Linked DNA regions of Homo sapiens: regions 1, 2, 3 and 4 are each reported to be linked to region 5. Evidence: microRNA targets listed by miRTarBase, many of them from high-throughput screens and not tested one by one. Region 5 holds a microRNA gene; each other region holds the end of a gene's coding sequence.
Evidence for each region. The annotated mature microRNA hsa-miR-122-3p reads AACGCCAUUAUCACACUAAAUA and lies in region 5 at 1,873-1,894, shown strand. An mRNA with a match to its seed (bases 2 to 7 or 8) in the 3' UTR can be bound and repressed. Matches are read on the target gene's strand: a 7mer-m8 pairs with bases 2 to 8, a 7mer-A1 pairs with bases 2 to 7 and ends in A, and an 8mer does both.

Region 1: miRTarBase lists MCAT as a target of hsa-miR-122-3p. The part of its 3' UTR that is shown has no 7-base or 8-base seed match.
Region 2: miRTarBase lists PRPF38A as a target of hsa-miR-122-3p. Seed matches in the 3' UTR shown: 7mer-m8 at 44-50.
Region 3: miRTarBase lists ZDHHC24 as a target of hsa-miR-122-3p. Seed matches in the 3' UTR shown: 7mer-m8 at 1,833-1,839.
Region 4: the mRNA of GXYLT2 is a reported target of hsa-miR-122-3p. The part of its 3' UTR that is shown has no 7-base or 8-base seed match.

Annotation. Positions count from the first base shown.
Region 1 is chr22:43,129,286-43,133,465 of GRCh38, forward strand. It overlaps MCAT (malonyl-CoA-acyl carrier protein transacylase), which reads right to left. Exons shown (of 4, transcript NM_173467.5): 4 at 2,924-4,180. The coding sequence ends at 3,758. BIK (BCL2 interacting killer) reads left to right here. Exons shown (of 5, transcript NM_001197.5): 5 at 1-427. The coding sequence ends at 20. Among named protein-coding and RNA genes, the nearest start is that of MCAT, 12 kb to the right of the region's middle. RefSeq lists an enhancer at 1-162.
Region 2 is chr1:52,415,821-52,420,000 of GRCh38, reverse strand. It overlaps PRPF38A (pre-mRNA processing factor 38A), which reads right to left. Exons shown (of 10, transcript NM_032864.4): 10 at 1-3,353. The coding sequence ends at 3,311. Among named protein-coding and RNA genes, the nearest start is that of PRPF38A, 13 kb to the right of the region's middle. RefSeq lists a silencer at 2,850-3,144.
Region 3 is chr11:66,536,011-66,540,190 of GRCh38, reverse strand. ZDHHC24 (zDHHC palmitoyltransferase 24) reads left to right here. Exons shown (of 3, transcript NM_207340.3): 3 at 367-4,180. The coding sequence ends at 662. Among named protein-coding and RNA genes, the nearest start is that of ZDHHC24, 7.9 kb to the left of the region's middle. RefSeq lists an enhancer at 1-591.
Region 4 is chr3:72,974,698-72,978,843 of GRCh38, forward strand. GXYLT2 (glucoside xylosyltransferase 2) reads left to right here. Exons shown (of 7, transcript NM_001080393.2): 7 at 280-2,218. The coding sequence ends at 462. Among named protein-coding and RNA genes, the nearest start is that of PPP4R2, 20 kb to the right of the region's middle. RefSeq lists an enhancer at 2,705-2,774.
Region 5 is chr18:58,449,252-58,453,431 of GRCh38, forward strand. MIR122 (microRNA 122) reads left to right here and starts at 1,823; the gene lies at 1,823-1,907. MIR122HG (MIR122 host gene) reads left to right here. Exons shown (of 3, transcript NR_170245.1): 2 at 58-289; 3 at 1,568-2,030. It overlaps MIR3591 (microRNA 3591), which reads right to left and starts at 1,901; the gene lies at 1,829-1,901.

The DNA of each region.
Region 1 (4,180 bases), not on the chromosome of region 5:
TGCACCTGCTGCTCAAGTGAGGCCCCGGCGGCTCAGGGCGGGGCTGGCCCCACCCCCATGACCACTGCCCTGGAGGTGGCGGCCTGCTGCTGTTATCTTTTTAACTGTTTTCTCATGATGCCTTTTTATATTTAAACCCCGAGATAGTGCTGGAACACTGCTGAGGTTTTATACTCAGGTTTTTTGTTTTTTTTTTATTCCAGTTTTCGTTTTTTCTAAAAGATGAATTCCTATGGCTCTGCAATTGTCACCGGTTAACTGTGGCCTGTGCCCAGGAAGAGCCATTCACTCCTGCCCCTGCCCACACGGCAGGTAGCAGGGGGAGTGCTGGTCACACCCCTGTGTGATATGTGATGCCCTCGGCAAAGAATCTACTGGAATAGATTCCGAGGAGCAGGAGTGCTCAATAAAATGTTGGTTTCCAGCAGTCTCTGGTCCTCTCTGGGGGGTTGGCAGCACCAGCACGGGCTTCCTCTCGCCCCAGGGAGGCACACTGTGTTGGTGGGGAGGGCAGGGCCTGTGTGCTCCTAATCAGATCCTTCCCTGCAAAAGGGGACCGCAAATGCTGCCTTGGTTTGGCCCGACGGTTTGCCTTCTCCCTTGTCCCGGTCTGTGGCCTAAAATCCACTGTTGGGGGTTATTTCCTTTGGGCTTTCAGTTCCTCTTTAGGGGATGCCTGCCTCTCCCTGCACAGACTCCTCACCACAGGGATGCAGCCGTGGCTCCGCTCACAGGGAGAGGTGTGGTGGGGATTGGGGAGCAGGACAAGGGGCACCAGGGGCAGGAGGGCCAGGACCCTGCTTTGTACCTTTGTAGGCTTGGTACCTGCCCTGGGCCTTGCCTCGTGCCATTTGTAGACCCCACCAGGCCTCCCTCCCAGGACATCGGCTCTGTGTCTGCCCTCCACCCCAAATGTCAAAGCTGGGCTGGGCCGGCCACCATTCTCCAGCCCCCAACCCCCCTCATCCCCAGAGCTGGGAGATGCAGCTGTTCATACCTCCCAGGCTGGCTGGGCAGACCCTGCATCCTGCTCACTCCTCCCTCCATCCTGGCCTCCAAACCAAAGGGGACCTCCAATAGGCTTTCCTGCCTCCTTATGTCTTCTCTCCCCAAGGTCTGGCCCTTTGCAGCCTTTTTTTTTTTTTTTTTTTTTTTTTTTTTTTTTTTTTAATTAAGAGACTTGGCTTTCCTGTGTTGCCCAGGTCGGCCACCAACTCCTGGGCTCAAGCAGTCCTCCCACCTCAGCCTCCCAAATAGCTGGGTCTGCAGGCACACACACCACTGCACACAGCCCTTTGCAGCTTTGAGGCCTGACTTCACACACCGTTTTTTTTTTGTTTGTTTTTGTTTTTTGTTTTTGAGATGGAGTCGGCCGGGCTGGAGTGCACTGGCGCGATCTCGGCTCACTGCAACCTCTGCCTCGTGGGTTCAAGCGATTCTCCTGACAGCCTTCCGAGTAGCTGAGACTACAGGCATGCACCATCACGCCCAGCTAATGTTTGTATTTTTATTTTGAGATGGGAGTTTTGTGATGGTTGCCCAGGTTGGAGTCCAGTGGCTTGATCTTGGATCACTGCAACCTCCACCTCCTGGTTCAAGTGATTCTCCTGCCTCAGCCTCCTGAGTAGCTGGGATCACAGGCATGTGCCACCAAGCCTGGCTAATTTTGTATGTTTAGTAGAGGTGGGTTTCGCCATGTTGGCCAGGCTGGTCTTGACTCCTGGCCTCAGGTGATCCGCCCACCTCGGCCTCCCAAAGTGCTGGGGTTGCAGGCCTGAGCCACCATGCCTGGCCAATTTTTGTATTTTTAGTAGAGATGTAGTTTCACCATGTTGGCCAGGCTGGTCTTGAACTCCTGACTTCAGGTAATCCACCCGCCTCAGCCTCCCAAAGTGCTGCAATTGCATGTGTGAGCCACCGTGCTTGGCTGGAGACCACTCTTGTTGGCCAGAGGTGGGCGGGCTTGTGAGTGAAATGTAAAGGCATCAGGCCAGGCCAGGATGTGCTCAGCAAAGACAGGCTGAGCCCTGATCTGGACAGAATGTTGTTCCATGGAGAACACTTTTTTTTCACAATGGAGTCTCGCTCTGTCACCCAGGCTGGAGTGCAGTGGTGTGATCTCAGCTCACTGCAACCTCCGCCTCCCAGGTTCAAGCGATTCTCCTGCCTCAGCCTCTCAAGTAGCTGGGATTACAGGTGCGCACTGCCATGCCCAGCTGATTTCTCTTACCCCTTCATGGGCTTGGATCTTGCCCCAGGCCATGAGGACAAGGGTAGTGCAGAGAGAGCAAGTGGTAAGGCCTGCTGTCCCTTACTGCTGTCCTCCTGGAGAGGCAGACCCCTCCCTTATTTGGGATTTTGTTCCTCAGAGCTGAACGTGGCCATCCTTCCTGCAGCGCTGCAAGAGAACCTGGACGTGGAGAGCCTGGGTCTCCTGAGGCTGCCATTGCTTGAAGCTTTCAGGGAAGGAGCTTCAAACATGCTCAGTACTTAAAATAATCAAGTTCTCTGTGCAATACAGATTTAAGACATAGTTCTTTCCAAAGAACTGTCGCACTCCCAGGGACGCGCATGCAGGCTGCAGTGGGAATCACATCGCATCGGCTTTTGTGTTTTCAGCCAGGGCTTCGAGACATGCAGGGTGTCTGGGGTCACAATGCCTGGAAGTGCTGCTGGTGTGTAATGGCCCGGCACCAGGGCAGCTGCCCAAGAGTGGGACATTCCCATATAAGGAAGGAGGGTTCTGCCCAAAGGCCAGCTGGGCCCTGCTGAGAAACACCAGAGAACTAAAAATGTGAAAATGAGGAACCCTATCCAGGACTTGACGTGTCTACACAATGGTAACATTTTAAGACAATCAGAGAGTTCATTCCCAATAATATTTTCCCACTATCTCTGTATAATGAACAACCACCCAAGCAGCTTGGAATGTCTCATACTTAATATTGGCGCAGGAGCTGCTCTGAGGACGGGGCATGGAGCCAGGGGTCAGCTCCGAGGCAGGTATGTGCTGTGCTCCCTCTGGCGCCCCGCAGACCCGCAGTCCCAGTGGGTGACCAGGGTGTTCCTCCATGGTTCCACCCCTAGGACCAGGGCCTCAGTCGCCCTCCCTACCTGGCACTCCCCACACCCCGCACCTCACTCAAGGACCTTTCTACCAGAACAGAGCGCACTCACTCTCTAGCACACAGCAGGCAATACATATCTCTTGGGTATGTCCATAAATGTGGGCCTCTGTCTCCCAGCTGTCAAGTGAGGAGGTGAACAAAACTGCCAAGGCCAACTGGGTTCTAAAACCTTTCAGATTTGTGACAAAGGAGCCCTGGGGGGCAGGCTGGGGGTGGTGGAGGGGCTCCCCTGGCACTGGCTGAAATTGAGGCCACACCAGCATGTTCTCAGCACTCACAGAGCAGGACAGGCTGCAGCAGCCAGTCCTCCCCTTCCCGCTGAGATGGCACACCTGCCTATGGTGCAGGGCTGGCAGAGGCGGGGCCAGGATTCTAGCTTCCCCACACACCAGCCCTGTGGCATCATTCTTCCCAACGTCCAAACGTTTTTCCAAGGGGGAGAAATGGACTGGGTCATGTAAAGAAATACTCATTTTTAGGGCTTTTTATGTGGCCTTCAAAGCACGTTGCAAACAAATCCCTTTCACTCCTCAGAGGAGGAGCCATTAGGAAGGTAGGGGGCGACAGGCACAGCCTACAGCCTCTCCTCAGGAGGACAGAGGGGGTCATCGCATTTGAGCCCCCTGCAGTCATCTCGGGGGCTCCTGAGGGTCCAGGTCCACATGTTCGAGGGTCTGCAGCACATCCACGGCGCTGTAGGACTTCCAGGCCTGCATGTTACAGCTCTTCAGGATGGCTCCCAGCTGCCTGCCAGGGCCTACTTCGAAAGTTTGGGGGAACCCCCTGCCCTTTTTCCTTTCGTATATGGCATGCATCGTCTGCTCCCACTTCACTGGGGAGACCAGCTGCTGGGCCAGCAGCTTGTGGATGTGCCCGGGATGCCTGTATCTATGCGCGTGGACGTTGGAGTAGACAGAAACCAGAGGCTTCTTAATGTCGACTGCCTTTAAAGCTTGCGTCAGGGGCTCCACGGCTGGCTCCATGAGGCGGGTGTGGAATGCGCCACTAACCGGCAACATCCTGGTGCGTCTGAAATGAAACTTAGAGGAATT
Region 2 (4,180 bases), not on the chromosome of region 5:
ATGGCGCGATCTCGGCTCACTGAAAGCTCCGCCTCCCGGATTCACGCCATTCTCCTGCCTCAGCCTCCCTAGTAGCTCTACCCGCCAGCACACCCAGCTAATTTTTTGTATTTTTAGTAGAGACGGGTTTCACTGTGTTAGCCTGGATGGTCTCGATCTCCTGACCTCATGATCCGTCTGCCTCGGCCTCCCAAAGTGCTGGGATTACAGGCGTGAGCCACCGCACCCGGCCAATTCTTTTTAAACCATCAGAATATTTCTTTATTCTACATATTTCTCTTTTCCATTTTTTATTTCCTCCAGCCTATTTTCTCTGTGCTGTTTTATGTTTTGTGGTTTCTAGTATAAGGCCTTTAAACTCCACCAATCTTATTTTTCATCTCTTAATCTCTTTTGAACTTTTTTTTTTTAAAGAGATCATGTCTGCTGTCTTTTTTGAGCAGGTGGAGAATTTCTGTCACATTAACCTTTTTGAGGGAGTGGGCAATCTGTGATCGTTCTTTTCTAAATAATGCTTATTTAAACTTCGGTCTACTGAAGAATAACAAACAGGAAGAGGTTAGAGGAATGAGCTTGAAGTTGGGTTGTTAATATTGGAACCCTCTCACCAAACCCATTCTTCTTCTTCTTTTTTTTTTTTTTTTGAGATGGAGTTTCGCTCTTTTTGCCCAGGCTGAAGTGCAGTGGCACGATCTCAGCTCACCGCATCCTCTGCCTCCCAGGTTCAAGCGATTCTCCTGCCTCAGCCTCCCAAGTAACTGGGATTACAGGCATGCGCCACCATGCCCGGCTAATTTTGTATTTTTTAGTAGAGACAGGGTTTCTCCATGTTGGCCAGGCTGGTCTCAAACTCCCGACCTCAGGTGATCTGCCCGCCTCGGCCTCCCAAAGTGCTGGGATTACAGGCGTGAGCCACCGCACCTGGCCAAAAATGCATTATTTCTTTTGCCCCTTGGAACACATCTCCCTTACTTTCTTAGTATTAAAAGGCGATTGTGCCCTATGGCAAAGCTTTTAAGTCAGTGTATTTCAAATTATTGGAAGTGAAATCGATTAAGTGGTTTCATCCAATATTAAAAACTGTTAACAAGTAGGAAACACCAGAATTCACTTTGCATAGTAAGTATTCTTTCCTGAAATTTGTCTCAGTACAGAATACAGATGTGTACAGAGGTAAGATGTAAAATACGTTTTTAAAATGTATGCTGTAGTCAAAAAGTTTAAAATGCTTCATCCATAGGCAAGCACATAGATGACAGAAAGAGCCTTACAGCAAGGTTTGTCCTCAAGCTCCATCTCCTGTGTAATTTTATCAAAACGATATCTACAGACATGCAACATGTCTTACTCTTACCTCCTTCTTCTAATTAAAGAATAGGGACATTCTCTTTCCTGCTATTGATTGGCTGTGGTACCTCAATTTTGGTCCACATATTACCATATGTCTAAACAAGTATGTTTTAATGTTTGTTTAGGGAGGTTTATTTCTGTTACTAAAATTTATTGGGCTTTGTGCGTGGGTTTATTTTTACTTTAAAACATATTTTAAGACAAAGTTTTATTTTAAGAGTGTACTGGATGACAGCTTGGTTGGTCCATGGGTCATTTCTGTCCATGCCAGAAGACATTTCTTTCTACCTAGATCACTTTCATAAAGAAATAACTGCTATGACACTGTAATACATTTACGTACAGATGCTTATATTTAATCTTAAAAGGTAGTCCTATATAGTTCTATCAGAAACCGTAAGAGCTCTTTCAGACCACTTTTATTAACTCAGGTATTACGAAAGGAACCATTGAAGAATATGAAAGCTCAAATAAGATTAAAAAATGCTTTAATACTGCTGAAGTCTTTCAATTCTAGAGCAGGCATAGAATATATAGAATGTTTACCTTATGACCAGATACAACCTCCCAAGAAAAACTGGATCCTGCAGGGCAGCTGGTCTTCACAGTTCCTGCTGGGACTACAGTTGCAGAAGTCATTCCATCACTTTTCTCTTTTTAAGGGAGTTAAGTACAGGTAAAGGAACTCTTCTAGCAAAGATCTTAATAATCTCTTGATTATCGATGTCCGTGGAGGCTTTTTAGTCCTTCCTTTGCTTCTGCATTCTTGACCCTTGGCTTCTTTCACTCACTCTCTCCTAATTCTCCTGTCTTTCTGAATGGGCCATTCCAGTTTTCAATAGGTGACTTCTATTTCTTCCTGTGTTGGTGTTGCCTATGGTTCTGTTGTGTGCATTTCTGATATATATTAACACTCTGGGAAGTCTTATTGACAGATTCCACCATTACTTAAACATTGTCAATTCTGGCCTAGATCGCTATGTTAAACTCTGGTCCCTATCTCCAACTTTATGGGCTTTTGTTTTTAGCTATACCATAGCTGTCTCAAATTAAACTTGTTAAACTGAATGCATCATTTTCATTACTACCACCATCCTCTAATTCTCTGCCCCTCTAAAAGCTGTCTCTTCCTGCTGTATTTTCTGACTTTGTGAATGGCACGACTGTCTAGCAATTTAGGTCAAAACCATGACTAATATTAGATACTTTCCTCTCCATCAAATCTTTTTCAATCCCGTTACCCTACTGCTACTGACTAGGCCTGGATAATGTCAATGCTTATATGATAAAGGCTGGATACCTTAACCTGGATTTCAAGCTTGTGGGCAAGAACAAATGAAACTATGAAAAAATGGGCTGTATAAAGGGTATTAAGTGCTGCTCTCTGTTGAACTGTTTGATGAAACTGGCTTTAATGATCCAGAAGCAGCCTTACATTTGAATGCATTCTATTCTTTCAAAACTGCTACAAACCAGTTTTCATGTTTATTACCACTTGCTGCTGCTGGAAAAAAGTTAGGAGCAACTATGTTTTACTCCTTTGATCTTTGAATAACAGCAGCAGCACAAATCCCAGGATTCTCAAAGCAGTTCCAACCACAACAAACCAAAAACTAAACTACAGCGAAATGGGAAACAGGTGTGTCCGGTTTAATAAAAAGGGAAAGGGTCATCAGGTGGCCACAGCCTTTCCTTGTCAGTCATATCCCCAACCTCCAGATCCTTTATACTCTCATAAGTTTGAATACAGTCAAGGTTAGTTGGGTCAAAAACTGATGTTGATTATGATTAAAAAGATACAAAACTCAGCACCTCCTTCATTAAAAATAAAGGTTGAGAAACTTGATAAGAAAAAAACTAAAATATTCTTATAGCTGCCTGGGGGAGATCTTAATCCTTCCACATACAGATATCCTTATATCCACAGGAGGCCATGTGGACTAAAACCAAACTGAGTCCATTACTCATTCCCTCTCCGGCTCTTCTTGTGGCTCTTCTTAGACCTGAAATGGCAACACATATAAATAATTATATTAAGAAGCAGCCAGGCACGGTGGCTCACGCCTGTAATCCCAGCACTTTGGGATGCCAAGGTAGGCAGATCACCTGAGGTCAGGAATTCGAGACCAGCCTGGCCAACATGGTGAAACCCTGTCTCTACTAAAAGTACAAAAATTAGCCGAGCATGGCGGCGGGCACCTGTAATCCCAGCTACTCAGGAGGCTGGGACAGGAGAATTGCTTGAACCCGGGAGGTGGAGGTTGCTGTGAGCCGAGATTGGGCCATTGCACTCCAGCCTCAATGACAGAGTGAGACTCCATCTCAAAAAAAAAAAAGGAGTCCTGAGAAAGACCTTGGTATGCTGACATTGATGGGGATGGAGCTGACACTCAATATTCATTAAACTGCTTGGTATTTTTTTGACTCAGAGCAACACTCTTGAGTCAGGCATTACTATCCAAATTTTACCATTGAGGAAATGACCTCTTAGAGGTTAAGAGTACACCAAACAGGCCCGGCGCGGTGGCTCATGCCTGTAATCCCAGCACTTTGGGAGACCGAGGTGGGCGGATCACAAGGTCAGATTGAGACCATCCTGGCTAAAATGGTGAAACCCCGTCTCTACTAAAAATATAAAAAATTAGCCAAGGGTGGTGGCGGGCACCTGTATTCCCAGCTACTCGAGAAGCTGAGGCAGGAGAATGGCGTGAGCCCAGGAGGTGGAGCTTGCAGTGAGCCGAGATTGCGCCACTGCACTCCAGCCTGGGAGACAGAGCGAGACTCCGTCTCAAAAAAAAAAAAAAAAAAAAAAAAAAAAGAGTGCACCCAA
Region 3 (4,180 bases), not on the chromosome of region 5:
CTGCTTCGCCCCCCCAAAGTGCTGGGATTACAGGTGTGAGCCACCGCATCCAGCCAAGAATGGCCTCTTTAATGTCTGTGAGCTCCCCAAGGGCAGAGACACCCTCTAGTGCCTGGCACCGCCTCCAGGGCTGAGGAGGTGCTCACCAAGTCTGTGATGCAGGAATGAAGCCGTATCCCAAGTAGGGGGCTGCGTCTGCCCAGTTTACCAGTGCGTTCTTGTCACCCAGCACGGGCTGGCCAGCGAGTATCGACACAGGGTTTGCTGAGCGGAGGAATGAGCCCTGCTTTGTGGTGGAGGGGAGCAGGTGGCAGGAAAGCCGGACCCCACTGCCCCTCCCTGACCCTCTCTGCTCTTTTATTGCAGGCAGAGTGTCTCTGGCACAGTTTGCCTTGGCCTTCGTGACGGACACGTGCGTGGCGGGTGCGCTGCTGTGCGGGGCTGGGCTGCTCTTCCATGGGATGCTGCTGCTGCGGGGCCAGACCACATGGGAGTGGGCTCGGGGCCAGCACTCCTATGACCTGGGTCCCTGCCACAACCTGCAGGCAGCCCTGGGGCCCCGCTGGGCCCTCGTCTGGCTCTGGCCCTTCCTGGCCTCCCCATTGCCTGGGGATGGGATCACCTTCCAGACCACAGCAGATGTGGGACACACAGCCTCCTGACTCCAGGAAGAGCCAGAGCTGTGCAGGGAGGAAGGGGTGAGAGGGGGGCCCCCACACCTAGACTCAGTAAGGAAGTCGGGTTGGACCTTAACATCTGCATTGGACAACTCCACCCCTTCCTTGGCCTTGCCCCTGCCCGCCTACACTCCTACGTGTCCAGGGCTTGGGCCGTGACTTAGGCAGAGGAGTGCAGAGGAGGGTCTGGCAGGGGCTGCTCAGGCCGCCTAGCTGCCCCTTTGCCAGGTTAATAAAGCACTGACTTGTTTCTCAGCCTCCCTCCATCTTTGCATAGTTTCTGGCCCCTCACTTTGTTGCTGGGGCTGTTTCTGGGACCCTCTGTAGGGCCTGGAAACTGCAGGATGCCTGAGGGTCTCAGGGGCTGGGGCTCTACCTCCCCTGGCCTGGGTGAGTTGGGGGTGGGGCACCAGCACGCCAAGGCAGTGTCCTACTGATCCAGGCTATGAGAATCCAAACATTCTTTCCCAGGTTTGGCATTTTATAGTTAGAAGCATTTCTGCAACAGCAGTTTCATGGAACCTCTCTTAGCTAACCTGGTCCATGGGGCAGCAGTTACGCTCTAAGAATCCATGTGGTAAGATCATGGTGCGGCAAATGGAGGCAGGGTCCAACCCAGGTCTTTGTGCTTTTGCCTTTACCCTTGCACAGCTGGAGGAAATGAGTAGGAAAGAAATCAAGGTAAAGAAATGCGCTGGGGCTGTTTGGGCATCTGTGGAGGGTGGTGCTGACAGGGCTAGGCCTGCACCTCTCTGGCCTCCTCAAGAGCTGCTTGTTAAATGTTTCCGTGTAAATAGAATGAATAGAGACCGCCATTTCCACATGGCAGGCCTAAACACATGTGTTCGTCTCAGTTTTCTCTTAGGATCTCTCTAAGATGATAGTAAAGAAAATCAAAAATAATACAAAGGGAAAGAAAACAGGAGGGAAGACAGTAGAACACAGAGCCTGACCACATTTTCTTTTTTCTCTCTGTTGCCGGGGCTGGAGTGCAGTGGCACGATCTCGGTTCACTGTAACCTCCACCTCCCGGGTTCAAGTGATTCGGCCTCCCGAGTTGCTGGGATTACAGACACCCGCCACTATGCCCGGCTGATTTTTTTTTTTTTCTTTTTTGAGACGGAGTTTTGCTCTTGTTGCTCAGGCAGGAGTGCAATGGCGTGATCTCGGCTCACTGCAACCTCCGCCTCCTGGGTTCAAGCGATTCTCCTGCCTCAGCCTCCCGAGTAGCTGGGATTACAGGTGCCCGCCACCATTCCTGGCTAATTTTTGTATTTTTAGTAGAGACGGGGGTTTCACCATGTTGGCCAGGCAGGTCTCAAACTCGTGACCTTGTGATCCGCCCGCCTTGGCCTCCCGAAGTGCTGGAATTACAGGTGTGAGCCATTGCGCCTGGCCATGCCCAGCTAATTTTTTTGTATTTTTAGTATAGACAGGGTTTCACCATGTTGGCCAGGCTGAACTTGAATTCCTGGCACCTGCCTCCACCTCCGTCTCCCAAAGTGCTAGGATTACAGGCGTGAGCTACCGTGCCTGGCTGACAATTTTTTATTATTTTATTTTATTTTATTTTATTTTATTTTATTTGAGACAGACTCTTGTTCTGTTGCCAGGCTGGAGTGCAGTGGCACGATCTCGGCTCACTGCAAGCTCCGCCTTCTGGGTTCACGCCATTCTCCTGCCTCAGCCTCTCAAGTAGCTGGGACTACAGGTGCCTGCCACCACGCCAAGCTAATTTTTTGTATTTTTAGTAGAGACGAGGTTTCACCGTGTTAGCCAGGATGGTCTCGATCTCCTGACCTTGTGATCCACCTGCCTCGGCCTCCCAAAGTGCTGGGATTACAGGTGTGAGCCACCACTCCTGGCCGGCCAGGATGGTCTTGATCTACTGACCTCGTGATCTGCCCGCCTTGGCCTCCCAAAGTGCTGGGATTACAGGTGTGAGCCACCGTGCCCGGCCGCCTGGCTGACATTTTCAAAGATGGAAAGTGGATGGAGAATTAAGAGCTGAAATTATGTGTTCCCAAAAGGTGGGGCCAAAAGGCAAGTGGAATTACCTGCCAGAGCCCCGGAGGGGCTCAGGAACTCCACCAGGACCATGGAGGGTGAGGTGAGGCTTCGGCCAACAATGGGGACCGATGGAAAGTCTATGTAAGGATCAGTGGGGTGCCGCTCCCCCACATCCCACCCACACCCCACCCACATCATGCAGCCAGCAGCTACACCTCTGGGTGGGGTGGTGTGACGTGAGGATTATTTGAAGGATAAATGGAACCAGAGAAGCTTCGGGTCTTAGGCGTACTGGGGAGGGGTGGGTGAGAGGCTAGACCAAAAAATGGGGTTAAGTGAAAGTCCATAGATACTGCTGGGGGGCCTCCCATGAAAGAACATGCTTGACCCCCAAGAACCTTCAGAGAAACCCACCCTCTGACAGGCTCTGCCCATGCCCACAAAGATCTGAGCTGCTTGGCTGGTTGTTTTTGTAACAGGCATGCTCTGTTGCTATTTTTTAATGACAGGAGGAACTTGGTGTACCTGGCACTTTGGGCTGCACAGACGCATTAGCAGACTCACCTTGTCCTGTTTCATCCCTCGCCCTCCACAATTTCTTATTTTCTTTCTTTCTCTTTTTATTTTTTGAGACAGAGTTTCACTCTTGTTACCCAGGCTGGAGTGCAATGATGCGATCTTGGTTCACCGAAACCTCCGCCTCCCGGGTTCAAGCGATTCTCCTGCTGCAGCCTCTCGGTAGCTGGGATTACAGGCATGTGCCACCATGCCCGGCTAATTGTTTTTGTATTTTTAGTAGAGACGGGGTTTCTCCATGTTGGTCAGGCTGGTCTGGAACTCCTGACCTCAGGTGATCCACCTGCCTCGGCCTCCCAAAGTGCCGGGATTACAGGTATGAGCCACTGCGCCCAGCCCACAATATCTTATTTTCATGTTTTTTTGTGTGTTTTGTTTTATTTTTCGAGATGGAGTCTCTCTGTTGCCCAAGCTGGAGTGCAATGGCGCGATCTTGGCTCACTTCCTGGGTTCAAGCGATTCTCCTGCCTTAGCCTCCCAAGTAACTGGGATTGCAGGCACCCACCATCATGCCCTGCTAAATTTTGTACTTTTGTAGAGATGGAGTTTCACCATGTTGGTCAGGCTGGTCTTGAACTGCTGACCTCAGGTGATCTGCCCACCTTGGCCTCCCAAAGTGCTGGGATTACAGGTGTGAGCCACCATGCCTGGACTCGTTGTTGTTGTTGTTTTTAATTAGTGAGGAGCTACAAGAACACATTTATAAAAATTAAGAGGAAACAGCCCCACTGCATTTGAGAAGGTTACCATTTCCTTCGAAGTTCCTGCTGTTGCCCCTTCCTGGTGGGGGAGACACTGTCCTGTTTCAGTCATTCCGTTGCTTTGCTTTATAGTTTTATTAATGTGTTTGTGTTGGCTTTGCATGTTTTCAAATATATGAATGAAATCATGCAGAGTTTATTCTTTTACAGTTTGCC
Region 4 (4,146 bases), not on the chromosome of region 5:
TCGGCCTCTCAAAGTGCTGGGGTTACAGGTGTAAGCCACCATGCCTAGCCTTTTTCTTTTTAAAGAGGTAAAGAAACTGAGGTTCGGAGAGTTTAAATGATTACCTGGGGTTGCACAGCTGAGACAGGATTTTAAGTTAGATCCTCAAAGGTCTTTTCACTTGTCCAAACCTGTGCCTGTGGGCTTATCGTAATTCCTGTGTCATTTCTTAGTAAAAATGATCTGCATTTAAAATGGCATTTCCGTTACTAAATAAACTTTTTTTTTGTCATCTTTCAGTTTCCCTTTCAAGACAATCTCTTTCAATCCATGTATTACCCCCTTCAGCTGAAGTTTTTGGAGACTGTGCACACTTTATGTGGACGAATCCCGCAAGTTTTTCTGAAGCAAATTGAGAAAACAATGAAAAGGGCTTATGAGAAACACGTCATCATCCATGTTGGCCCCAACCAGATGCACTGAATATTTTGTCTTGTTGCAAGTCAATTAGGTGTCTTGTGACCAAGGAAATACTAATCTCTAAGCTGCCTGGGTCTTTTTGTGTGAATATTTAATGGTGCTCCATGACTGTTGAGTTTTAAAAACCTCGTTAAATTTTGCCAAATCAGTTGCCCCCAAAAGGGAATATGCTTTTCCTTATTTTTTTTTCTAAAATGCTATTTATCTCTAAGGAAAAAAAAAAAAGACTATTACTCATTTAACATTGTTTAAGCAGGTTGAGCTAGCTGTGAAAATAGCTTTTGTGAGCCTTCTAATTCCTAAACGTCTGAGACCATTTCAGTGGCACCTGAGGTGTTATATTGATCTAGCATTCCTGAGACTCTTTCTATGCAACTGACTCCCCCACACCCGTGTTATAAAAGTAATACACACTTTTGAAACAGAGAGACACACTTGTAGAGCATATGGGTCAAGGGCTCAACATCAAGATTAGATTAGCCATAATCCTATTGACCAGTGGAAAAGATTGTTTCCATTTTAAAGCAGTTCCTTACAACCTTTTTTCTCTACTTTTGCATTTTCCACTCTAACACACATCTAAAACAGGTAATCTCAGTAAAAGCTGGCCTTTTTGCTGAGATTTTTATGTGGGAGACTAAAATATTAGATGAGATGATTATGTGTACAGAATTTTATTTAAAATACATCTGAGAGAATCATTCAGATACTTGGGTAGTGTTAAAGGATGAAGCATGTATCTGGGGGTATTTCTTCTTTTTCTTTCTTTCTTTTTTTTTTTTTTTTTTTTTTTGAGACGGAATCTCACTCTGTAGCCCAGGCTAGAATGCAGTGGCAGGATCTCGGCTCACTGCAGCTTCCACCTCCTGGGTTCAAGTGATTCTCATGCCTCAGCCTCCCCAGTAGCTGGGATTACAAGTGTGTGCCACCACACCCGGCTAATTTTTGTATTTTTAGTAGAGACACGGTTTTACCATGTTGGCCAGGCTGGTCTTGATCTCCAGACCTCAAGTGATCTGCCTGCCTCAGCCTCCCAAAGTGCTGGGATTACAAGTGTGAGCCACTGCACTCAGCCAATCTGGGAGTATTTCTAAAGAAAAAAATTACTTTGATTTGTGGAGGACTAAATCATAATACATTTCTATGCAACAATAGCTTCTGAGAGGAAATTCAGGAATGTTTGTGTTTACCACAGACAAAAACATTTGATCTGTTAATCATCAGTAGCTGTGGTCATCTCTCTTTCTTAAACTCTTGGGCAATGGGTGGAAATCAGAGACCAACTTCAAATTTAATGTGTAAAAAACAAATAGTTCAGCTGCTTCTATTGGTAAGAAAATTCAACTTCCTACCAGCCTTAGAAAGGTCTCTTTAAACAATTTCTTTCCCCCTAGGGTTACCTAGCTGGTCCATACAGGTTTTATCACCTCACTGCAAGGAGGAAGTTGAATATTCTGTTCCCCACGGGGATCTGGCTTAATCCCTAGTTGCTCATATAGTTGGTATCAGCATAGCAATATTTTGCATAATGCTTTATTTTTCTCAAATGACTATTGCATAGATGATCTTGATATTTGCAACAGCCTAGTGGATTTGGTAGGGTCCTGAATCATCTCTATAAGGCAAACAAGGAAATTGTAACACAAAGAAATAAACATATTGAATATAATTGCTATTCTGTAAGACATACAGTCTGTGTAAGATGTATCTTATTTACAGAGACATTTTTGAAAATTAAAATATTAAATACTTTTTGTTATATAGAGACAATGATCTGGAAGTATAAAAAGAAAAATATTATCTTGTTGATGTAAATATGATATCCTTATATATATTAGAATCCAATAAGATATCATGGGCGCAATATTAGCAAAAAAAAGTCAGTCTTACCCTGAAAAAAAAATAGATATGAAAATCTCAGCACTACACAGAAATGTTTAGATGTCAATCAGTTTTGGTATGCAGCATTATTATAGTAGTAACAAATTTAAATCTAAAATTTTAGAGTAATACTTTCCTTCTGATCAGTTGCCCTGTGGTTATTTTTGTTAAGGAAACTACCATTATGACGGGAAACTCTTATTTTTGCTGTTATATTTTGTTTCCTTATTTCACCACTAGAGGTGACATCATTATTTTGTAACTTTAGTACTAGGCTTTCCATTTGTGGTATGGACACGTATGATATGGAGCAATTTTTGAATTGTCTTTCACATAGGGGAAATTGCATCTTATATACCCATAAATTGGGTTTTAGTGAAAGAGCCAGGATGGAACATAATTTCCTAACTTCCATCCTAGTTTCCTTTCTACTTGTTCAGAATGGCCAGTGAAACACACAAATGGCACTCAGATTTGTTGATGGCTCACCAACTCAAAGAGGTTCCTTCTCTCCTTTGATAAGTCCCACAAAAACATCTACTGTAAAGACTTGAAATACAATGCCTTTCTTTTTTATGAGAGCCAAGTTTACCCACAACTCTCAACTACCAGTACTGGTCTGACTGTGCAGAAAAGGGTTGCCCGCAAAGGTCAATGATATCACCCTAGAACATTCTAGAATGATGAATTTTGAGAATGTGAAACCTTAGAACCTCGTGCGGTTGTCTGCCTTGGAATTCCTGTGCTGTATCCTGAAATTTTAGCTGAATTTGGCAGAGAATTCAGAGAAAATTTGCTTTTCTAATCCTTGCTGCCTGAAAGTGCTAATTATTTTCCATAGCTAGGATATTACCATGGAGCAATATTTTCTCTGCCTTTGATAACTCCCAGCAAATTACTACATTAACCGCCTTTGAAATCCAGGAGCCACAAATTTTAATTCAGTGGCCTGCTAAAACATGCACTCTCTGGTTTAAAGTTTGCCAGAGGTGGTGCTGCCCCATATGCCACATTGAATACTGGGAAGGGCCGGGCACGGTGGCTCACGCCTGTAATCCCAGCACTTTGGGAGGCCGAGGCGGGCGGATCACGAGGTCAGCAGATCAAGACCATCCTTTCGAACACGGTGAAACCCAGTATCTACTAAAAATACAAAAAATTAGCCGGGCGTGGTGGCGCCTGTGGTCCCAGCTACTCGCGAGGCTGAGGCAGGAGAATGGCGTGAACCCGGGAGGCGGAGCTTGCAGGGAGCCGAGATTGCGCCCCTGCACTCCAGCCTGGGCGACAGAGCGAGACTCCGTCTCAAAAAAAAAAAAAGAATACTGGGAAGAAGGTGGGCCAGTTCTCTCCTCTCCTCCTGCCCTGCCTTTTCTCTCTTCCCTCTCTTTTCTTCTTTACTCATTTCTTTTTAATTTCTGTTTAATGCATATAACTATGGACTTCCATTAAAGAAGAAAAGAGCACTTTCTGATAGCAAAAGGTGACAGTATTTTTATATGCATCGAGATTGAGGTTTTTCAACAGCAGTGTCACTGGAAATGCTGCCAATATTTTTCTTGCTGAGTGTTTCTCCAATATAAATCTCAGTAATCATGGCTTACATTGAAAATTCTAATATTTAAACAATTAACTGGCTAGAAAAGCAATTTAAGTTTTTCTTCAACTTCCAAAATGGCAATTTAGCACTTTGGATACAAAGCTCCAAGCTTTACTATTTATGGGATATGTCTAGTTCATATTCAGTGCTTCCATTGCAAATTATTGTGACTTTTACCAAATTTGGTATTGAAATGGGTATTTATATGG
Region 5 (4,180 bases):
AACTTCCTCATCTCTTTTCATCTTCCATCTGTTCCTTCCCTTTTCTGTATTTTGCAGATTATTCAAAGCCAAAAGCCAACAGAGCCCCCATGGAGAAGTGGAGGATGCTCAGATACTGCTATGGAGCCCTGAGAAGTGAAATGGGTCCAAGCCCTTGCCCAGGATAGAGCGCTCCAAGCGCATCCTCCGGGGACCCTTTTAATCAGTGAATTGTTCACCTCTCACTGTTTCTTCCCAGCAGAGCTAAGAGACTTCTAGAGCCTCTTGTGGATGGTCAGCGATAGCCCTGGTATGACCAGGAGGTGGCGATTTCTGTTCTAGGTCCCTCAGCAAAGACTAAGCAGGACAAGCCTGGCTACTGTGTTAGGAGGAGCTGTAGGGAAAGGGAAGGACAAGATGGGCCACCACATGCCTGTGTCCACTGCTGGCCACACCCAGAGTGCTAGGGGTTTGTGGCAGTGACTGGGGCCACCTAGAGCAGTTCTAGGGTTCGTAGTCATTCTCTCTGAGTCATGGAAAACTGCCCAGGAGGCGAGTCCCACCTAAGAGAGTATGTGTAGCACTGGCACGGCCTGCTGCCTTGCAAATGACCACATTTCATGAAAGAAAGCCAGGGCCACAGACAGGAACCAAAGGAAATCAGTCACTTAGGGGAAGATAACGAATCCACAAAGTGAAAAAGGGAAAGAAAAAAAGAGGCAACTTCAACACTCCAACCCATGGGAGCAGAACGACTTTCAGCTTTCGCAGGGGGATAATCACTGCAAGTCCAGCTTGAAGAGGGTGATTTCAGGATCTACATGAGAATAAGGCGCAATTTTTTTTTTTTTTTTCTGAAAAATACGGAAGGGTTCATTTACAGCTGTTAAAGATGGGCCGGTTTTAGGGCTAAAGCAAGACTCTGGTCAGATGTTAACAACTCAGTTATCCTGGGGAAAAAATAACTGGCTCCCAACCCTTTCCCTTTTCAGCATTTGCAGGAAAAGAAGGAGTAGGTAAAATGCTTTATTTCCTCTCATTCTCCATGGTGGGCAGGAGTTCACATAACAATTATAAACCATCTTTAACAGGAAAGCCAAGTAAATCCTGTAGGGATTTATTTGGAGCTCCCTTTTTGCTAGAAAATGAGTATCATGAACTAAAAATGGACTCGTTTCCTCTCTCTCCATCTTCCTCTCTTTCTTCTCTCCCCTCATCTCCCACCCACCGCCATGGTGGAAAATGACTGTGGTCAAGAAGATTGAACATTTGAGCAAGACCAGATGCCTTTATATCCAATAGATGCCACGGAGAGTAGATCACAACACATCTAACTGCTGTATCCCCATATAAAATAATTTTAATTTTCCTAGACTGCAGAATTGATCACATTTACTGATGATGGATTGGGAAGTAGGTGAAGAGGTGAGAGTTGGAGAGTATCCATTCATTCGGCCAGATTATTCTCATTTATAATGTAGTCTTCCAATAAGTATTTATTTCCAGAAATCTATTCCCTCTAGAGATTCTTTCTCTCTCAGCCATTTTAGAAAATTGTTGCAAACAGAGTTCCTGTCCATTTTCACAGGAAGTTTTTGCAGAAGGGGTTTGCTGGGTGGCAGTGGAACACAGGCAGTGGACCCCTCTACTACTCTACTGTTCCAGAACACAGAAGCCTTTCATTGAGAGTGTTCAGCTCTTCCCATTGCTCAAGATGCTTGTACCCGTGATGCTTCTTTTCTCTGCTTAGGTCACAATATGTGGAGCTGACAAGGTTCCCCTATTATCAGTGACAATGGTGGAATGTGGAGGTGAAGTTAACACCTTCGTGGCTACAGAGTTTCCTTAGCAGAGCTGTGGAGTGTGACAATGGTGTTTGTGTCTAAACTATCAAACGCCATTATCACACTAAATAGCTACTGCTAGGCAATCCTTCCCTCGATAAATGTCTTGGCATCGTTTGCTTTGAGCAAGAAGGTTCATCTGATATCAGTCTTCTCAATCTTGTGTACTTACTGAATAAAGTCTGGCTCTTTTGCACTCATAACCAATATGGTTAGCTGAACCCTGCCTCTCACATGCTGTTGTTACATACCTTAGCTGGTGATTAATTTTCTTGTTTTCCCAAGTCAATAAAAAGATTGCAGACCAGGCACGGTGGCTCACGCCTGAAATCCCAGCACTTTGGGAGGCCAAGGCAGGCGGATCACTTGAGCTCAGGAGTTCAAGTCCAGCCTGGGCAGCATGGTGAAACCGTGTCTCTACAAAAACTACAAAAATTAGCCAGGCATGGTGGCATGTGCCTGTAATCTCAGCTACTTGAGAGGCTGAGGTGGGAGGATCAATTGAGCCCACGAGGTTGAGGCTGTAGTGAGCTGTGATGGTACCACTGCACTCCAGCCTGTGTGACAGAGCAAGATCCTGTCTCAAAAAATGAAAATAAAAAGATTGCAGAGTTCCTCAGAGCCCCCAACACAAGGCCAGGCACGAGGTAATCATTTAACCCATGCTTATAGACTTAAAATGAATAGTTAGGAAAGTGTTAGACGCAGAAGGCTAAGACTGGGCTAAATCTATGTTATGCAGACAGACCGCAAGCTTATAGGTACAAAATTAAGGTGTGTGGGTCCTTCTCTTTTCGTCGTTAAAAAATCCAACTTTCTAATAAACTTACACATGGTTTCACTGACGTTTCAGAAATTCTAGAATATGTTTGATTTCTACTGATTTCAATCAATTACTAGGCTGATTACTGAATTCGTACACTAGGCCTTTCTTCCTCTTGCATCAGTGAATTACCATCAGAAAATTGTTTATGAAGCATGTGTGAGCTGCCATAGCAAATCTGGGACCCATGCAGTTTCTAGGACAGTTGGCCCAGCCAGGTGCTCTGGTTTGGAACCCATTCTGTCTCTGAGAGGTGTCTAAAGTCAGGAGTAGGTTTCGTTTGTGCCAGACTAAAGCTTCCCTCCCCAGGCTTGGTTAAATGAAGTAGGACATGTTTAATCAAATAGACAGGGTTAGATCAACCATCAGAAACAAATTCAACCATTCAACCATTCACTTATGAAATAAATATGTGTAGAGACTACCGTGTGCCTGACACTGTCCTAGGCATTGAAGACACTTTTAAATTAAATGTGTCTGATGTTATTTCCAGAGATGGGCATTCACTGGCTCGCATTATATTTTGGGACCATTGTAATTGTTCCAAACGGGAGCCAAATGAGCAAAACTTTGCGAAATAATTCTGAGTCCCTTGCTGGAAAGCCTCACCTGAATGCAGCCCACACATTTATGATACACTACAAAGGCTTCAAGGTCATGAGATGCCTCTGTCCAAAGAAGAAGAAGAGCACCCCTGCCTGCCCTGCATCTCTTACCACCTCTCATTTCTTCCCTCCTGGCACCATCTACTGTCAAGAAGAGAATCAGACTCCCTGAAATAATTGAGACACTGACATTCCTTTTTGTGTGTATTTTTTTGGCAAAGGCTCTAATTGAACAGGCATTAATAGAGGGCTCTACTGTTATACAGATCACGCTCATGCACACTGTATTAGTCTGTGTTTTCATGCTGCTGACAAAGACATACCCGAGACTGGGAAGAAAAAGAGGTTTAATTGGACTTACAGTTCCACATGGCTAGGGAGACCTCAGAATCATGGCGGGAGATGAAAGGCACTTCTTACGTGGCATCAGCAATAGAAAATGAGGAAAAAGCCAAAGTGGAAACCCCTGATAAACCCATCAGATCTCGTGAGACTTATTCACTATCATGAGAATAGCAGGGGAAAGACTGACCCCCATGATTCAATTACCTTTCCCTGGGTCCCTCCCACAGCACGTGGGAATTCTGTGCGATACAATTGAAGCCGAGATCTGGATGGGGACTCAGCCAAACCATATCACATGCCATTTCATTTGATCCATACAACATGGGGCAAAGATGATCGGTTTGACAAACAGAGTCTAAAGGGTTCTGGAATCGTCTGGTCCTCCAGCCACAACTCAACATGGATCTCTTAAGTCTAAAGTTCTGTCCTGTACCTGCAGCCTCCTTTGGCCTAGTTATTTTGTGAAATCTCATGCTTCACAGTCGAATCTGTGTAGAACCTGGGTTAATCACGCCAGTATGCGATCAATATCCTCATCTCCCCATCTGCTTTGTCAGTGGATTCTGAGGGAAAACCTGTAAATT